2 separate regions of the Homo sapiens genome follow, and region 2 is linked to region 1. Evidence: fine-mapped expression QTL. A gene starts in region 1. The other region holds a variant in brackets. All regions are shown on one strand. Distances are from middle to middle.

Evidence for each region. PIP is the estimated chance that this variant, and not a neighbour inherited with it, causes the effect. A credible set is the group of variants that fine-mapping cannot tell apart.
Region 2: its variant is the best candidate, but not a certain one, in a credible set for the expression of ZMYND12 in whole blood (TOPMed, PIP 0.58).

What each region holds. Positions count from the first base shown.
Region 1 is chr1:42,454,582-42,457,493 of GRCh38, forward strand. ZMYND12 (zinc finger MYND-type containing 12) reads right to left here and starts at 1,441. Exons shown (of 8, transcript NM_032257.5): 1 at 1,307-1,441. The coding sequence starts at 1,416. It overlaps PPCS (phosphopantothenoylcysteine synthetase), which reads left to right and starts at 1,962. Exons shown (of 3, transcript NM_024664.4): 1 at 1,962-2,492; 2 at 2,666-2,769. The coding sequence starts at 1,985. It also overlaps a transcript of CCDC30 not described here. RefSeq lists enhancers at 1,563-1,792, 2,033-2,102, 2,193-2,312.
Region 2 is chr1:42,423,858-42,426,769 of GRCh38, forward strand. It overlaps RIMKLA (ribosomal modification protein rimK like family member A), which reads left to right. Exons shown (of 5, transcript NM_173642.4): 5 at 1-375. Among named protein-coding and RNA genes, the nearest start is that of ZMYND12, 31 kb to the right of the region's middle. The variant T/C (reference allele first, on the strand shown) is at 1,541.

The DNA.
Region 1 (2,912 bases):
CTCAAAACCATTCATGGTTTCCCAGGAGATAAATTCCAAACCCTTGATCTCATGTCACTGTCTAGCCCTAACCTTTATCTTCTTGGTTTAAACTTCTACTACCTATCACAATGATGTTCCAACTTTTTTTTTTTTTTTTGAGACACAGTTTCACTCTTGTTGCCCAAGCTGGAGTGCAATGGAGCGATCTCGGCTCACTGCAACCTCCGCCTCCCGGGTTCAAACGATTCTCCTGCTTCAGCCTCCCGAGTAGCTAGGATTACAGGTGCACGCCACCACATCCGGCTAATTTTGACTCAACCTATAGTAAGAAATACATTTTTCCTGTACACACACACATGTCCACATAAAACACTAAGACAAAAGTTTTAAGAAACAATTCAGGTAGGATTAACCTGATACTTTCTACTCATTCTGTGCTCTTTTTTGTTGTTGTTGTTTTCTCTAAATGGTGATTGTGACTTATTCATAAACTGCTAAAGGGCCCTGGCCTGCAGTTTGAAAATCACTGACTGCTCCCTCCACTACTACGTTCTCCACTCGGCCCTTAGCAAACTCTGTTCTTTTGCCATTTGCCCTAGCAGTCCCGGATGCCGGGAATGCCCTACCCTTCTTCACTACTCCTGTACACAGCAGGTTCTGACTGCCCTCTCAAAATGCAGCTCAAATGTTTCTTCCACAGGGAAAGCTTTCCACATACTGCCCCATTCACTATCGTCTCACTCTCGTTGCCCAAGCTGGAGTGCAGTGGCGCGATCTCCGCTCACTGCGAGCTCCGCCTCCCGGGTTCAAGCGATTCTTCTGCTTCAGCCTCCCGAGTAGCTGGGATTACAGGCGCCCAGCACCACTCCCGCCTAATTTTTGTATTTTTTAGTAGAGACAGGGTTTCACCATGTTGGCCAGGCTGGTCTCGAACTCCTGACCTCAGGCGATCCGCCCGCCTCGGCCTCCCGAAGTGCTGGGATTACAGGCGTGAGCCACCGCGCCCGGCCTGTTTCTTTACTGATTTGTCTCCCACATTGGAATGTTAGATCTTTGAAGGAACTGATCTACCGAGCTGCCCCAGTAACTTTAGCACCTAAAATAGTGCATAACACAGAGTACGCCTTCAGAAAACATGAGTGACGAATAAGTGGGAGATGAGACAGACGAGGCCACGGGAGTCTTAGGGGCCTGTCTTAAAGCCGTTTTGAGGTGTCCCTTGCAGAGTCAGGGGCAACGGCTAACGCAAGGTACCCAAGCCAGACCCGGGAAAGGGAGAGAGGGAGGGAGTTATAGCGCCCAGGTGCCACGTTTCAGGGCCTACCAGTAATAAGTGACTGTGCAGGCCGCGCACACCCGCTCGGCTGGGGCTTCGCACACCTCACAGCAGAGTCTGCGCCCCTTGGGGACTGCCAGTGGGTAGATCACATTCATGGTGCAGCCAGCAGTGCTGGTCTCTAAGACGGTTGCCCAGCAAGGATACGCTGAACCCCGGCGTCACGTGACGATCGCGGGGCTGCGTACTTGCCAGCATTTCAAGGGCAGAGGGCGGCGGGACGTGACTCGACTAACATCTGGGTGTATTGCTGAAGTTGGAAAAGGGGAAGAAAGAAAGAAAAAGCAGCACAAAACCCACAAGTCCCACGGGTCAAATGGCCGAGAAACGACTCCCAAGGAGTCCAAGTCCAGAAAGGCCCGTACAGTGGCCGGTAAGGGTCAAACATGGCCAGTTCTTCACCCAGGCTAGGAAACGAACGTGAGGGAACGTGACCCTACCAGATGCCCACCCAGCCGGGGATCCCCCTCGTTGCAGTGTCACTTTCGCTGGGCTCTGGGGCAGAACAACTACGCATTTCCAGACTTGGCGAGATCGGGACCTAGTGTCAAAAGAAGGGTAGTGAACCGCCCACTCAGTACGGCGCGGCGCGTACACCAGGTAGGCGAGAAGGGGCGTGGCGCGGCGGCCGCGAAACGTGCGCAGGCGCCGGCCGCTGCGCTGCAGATGGCGGAAATGGATCCGGTAGCCGAGTTCCCCCAGCCTCCCGGTGCTGCGCGCTGGGCTGAGGTTATGGCTCGCTTCGCGGCCAGGCTGGGCGCGCAGGGCCGGCGGGTGGTGTTGGTTACGTCAGGCGGCACCAAGGTCCCACTGGAAGCGCGGCCGGTGCGCTTCCTGGACAACTTCAGCAGCGGGCGGCGCGGTGCAACCTCGGCCGAGGCCTTCCTAGCCGCCGGCTACGGGGTCCTGTTCTTGTATCGCGCTCGCTCTGCCTTCCCCTATGCCCACCGCTTCCCACCCCAGACTTGGCTGTCCGCTCTGCGGCCTTCGGGCCCAGCCCTTTCGGGCTTGCTGAGCCTGGAGGCCGAGGAGAATGCACTTCCGGGTTTTGCTGAGGCTCTGAGGAGCTACCAGGAGGCTGCGGCTGCAGGCACCTTCCTGGCAGTAGAGTTCACCACTTTGGCGGACTATTTGCATCTGTTGCAGGCTGCGGCCCAGGCACTCAATCCGCTAGGTGCGTGCCCTAGGAGTACCCCTTTTGCCTGGAAGCACAGCCTTTCTTTCCAGCCACTTATCCCCTTACCTCCTGCTTACCCACGGATCTCAGCTGGGGAACCCGAGTTGAGAAGGAGCTGATCCTATATCGTACCTCGCCGATTTGTTAACACCTTGTGTTTCTCTTTGCAGGCCCTTCTGCGATGTTTTACCTGGCTGCGGCTGTGTCAGATTTCTATGTTCCTGTCTCTGAAATGCCTGAACACAAGATCCAGTCATCTGGGGGCCCACTGCAGGTGATGGGCGCTTCTCTTCCAGAGATCTAATCCCATATAACCAATCTTGGGTTAATTTCCTCTTGATCTGGAGATGGCCTTTCTGCATCTGTATTCGCTAGGCACAGGGGATACAGAGATGAATAAGACACCGCCCTCCCTCA
Region 2 (2,912 bases), 31 kb before region 1:
CCACTAACCTTAGGTCTACTGTACTCTTGGTGAATCACAGCTCTTTAGAGCTCCTCAAGGGCCTAAGCATCTTTTGTTAGAAAATTCTGGCTGAAATTCTCATGAGATGGGTCAGGGAACCTTGGAGTGGCAGCACTTGTGTCACATCTAAAGGCACTCCTCTGACTAAAGAGAAGTGGCAGCTGAGCACACTGCCTGCCCAGGGATTTTCTTCTGCTCTAAAGGACATTATTAAGACAACTGGTCTGTACTGTATTGCCTGATAGTATCATATCAATGTCAATTTCCTCATTTTGGTGATTGTTCTAATAAGAATACGTAAGAATGTGTCCTTGTTTTTAGAAAATACACATTAAATATCGAGGGATAGAGGTACATCATGTTTGCAATTTACTTTCAAATGGCTCAGAAAATAATGGGTTTCTAGAGAGAGAAAATAAAGCAAATGTGGTAAGATGTTAACATTTGGGAGATCTGGGTGAAAGGTATTATAGGAATTCTTTGCATGAGTAGGCTGAGTAAGTCTGAAATTACATCAGCCTCCTGTGCTGGGTTCACCTCCTCTCCATTAAATGTTGTTTCCTCCGGCATTTCCTTAGGCTTTCTGCTATTCCCTAGCTGCGGGTTTCATCCCTACATGATCTCCATTTGCTTGGTATTAATTACAACGTACATGATACTTTCAAATTTATCTCTGAACCCAGGCTTCTTTTCTTTTCTTTTTTTGTTTTGTTTTGTTTTGAGACAGAGTCTCACTCTGTTGCCCAGGCTGGAGTGCAGTGGCATAATCTCAGCTCACTGCAGCCTCCACCACCAAGGTTCAAGCAATTCTCCTGCCTCATCCTCCCAAGTAGCTGGGACTACAGGCGCCCACCACCACGCCCAGCTGATGTTTTTGTATTTATAGTAGAGACGGGGTTTCACTGTGTTGGCCAGGGTGGTCTCGAACTCCTGACCTCAGGTGATCCACCTGCCTCGGACTCCCATAGTGCTGGAATTACAGGTGTGAGCCACCGTGCTCTGCCCAGGCTTCTTTTCTTAAGGTCAGATGGCATATCCAGTTGCCCACCCTTCATCTCTCTTCAAATGTCTGATAAGCGTCTCAAATTCACCATGTTTCAAGCTGAATTCATGTTTTTATCTCTCCCCAACAAACCTCCCCTCTTTCAGGGCCTCCTCAGTTGAGTGCACAATGCCAACCACTTGCTGAAACCACACACACACAAAATAAAACAGAACTACAGTGGTCATTTTTGGCTGCTACCTTCCTCAACCCTTACCTCCAACTTGGTTTCTTGTGGTAAAACTTGACTTTTAAACCATGAACCACCTTTTTTCACTGAAAACTTTTCTTTTTCTTTTTTGCCATGTTCATTAAGATGTTCCAGGAGATACACAATCCTGAAAAAGGTCTGCAAGGGATAATGCTTATAATATATAATTCTGGTTTTACATCTTGCTCCCAATACTAACCTTGTTCGTATGTTTTTAAAACCTGCTACTGCTTATTTAAATATTAGCTATTAAAAGTGTGTGTGTA[T/C]GTATGTACATAATATAAAATATTTATCACATTGCACTGATCTTGATGAATATTAGGAAAGACATATGTTTTGTGTTTGGCAAAATGATTGCATGGTTCCGTCATCCAAATAATGCTTCACCATCTTTTCTGAAGCATTTTCTTTGCCAATTGTTTGTTTTGTGTGACCTATTGTGTTTGAGAAATGTTGTACCTCACAGAGTCATCATGAGAACAGAGACACCTCATTTGTACAATGTGTATCTGTAATGGGACATGGCAAGGCCTGGTGCTAGCAGTTTGGTTCCAATCTTGGTCATCTGAGGCCCTGTGGCACAGCAGAAAGCCATGGAGCGCAATGATAAAATGTTATATAGTGAGAGCGTAGAGCAGCAACTCAGAGTGAATTTTTGTTAAATAAAGATTCATAGACGATATGATATATTTGTAACAGTGCATATGTGCTTGCTAGTGGAAAATTTTAATCAGGCCTTTCAGAGATGATCCTTCAGCTCCACCCTTATGAATTCTGCTGAAGACGCTTAGGAAAGATGTGATCACCAGGTGGGAAGATAAGAGACACTCTATAGGGAACCCAGAAATCCTGGCTCATTTCAACCTACTTATACCCTTCAGGGTCAAGTAAACCACATTTTTTTTTTTTTTTTTTTTTTGAGATGGAGTCTTGCTCTGTCGCCCAGGCTGGAGAATGCAGTGGCATGATCTCCGCTCACTGCAAGCTCCGCCTCCCAGGTTCACGCCATTCTCCTGGCTCAGCCTCCCGAGTAGCTGGGACTACAGGCACCCACCACCACGCCTGGCTAATTTTTTTGTATTTTTAGTAGAAACAGGGTTTCACTGTGTTAGCCAGGATGGTCTTGATCTCCTGACCTCATGATCCACCCGCCTCAGCCTCCCAAAGTGCTGGGATTACAGGCGTGAGCCACTGCGTCCGGCCAAGTAAACCACATTTTGTAGAGCTGTTCAGAACTGAGATGATTTCCTGCATCAATAAATCATATATAAAAATGAAATATATTTTCATTGAAGAGTAAAAAAAATTAGGGCAAAATAAGAACATTTTTGAATTAATGAAAGAAAGAAAATCTGAGAATTTGCCATCTTTAGGCCCTCACTATAGGAAATACTGAAATATTTATCAGTAATGTGAGCCAAGATGGAAGATGTGAAAAGAAGGAACATGATGACTTTACAAAATAATTATGACATGAGTTTAAGATATATTTGAAATAATAAGAAGGTATAAGTTAGTGGGAGGTAAATATAGTTAAAAGATTCTAAAGACCTTCTATTGTCAGGGATGAGAGTTTCCCAAATAACTTTAAATTTTGATAAGTAAGGAACAAATGCTTGGATTTCTGGGGCAATCACT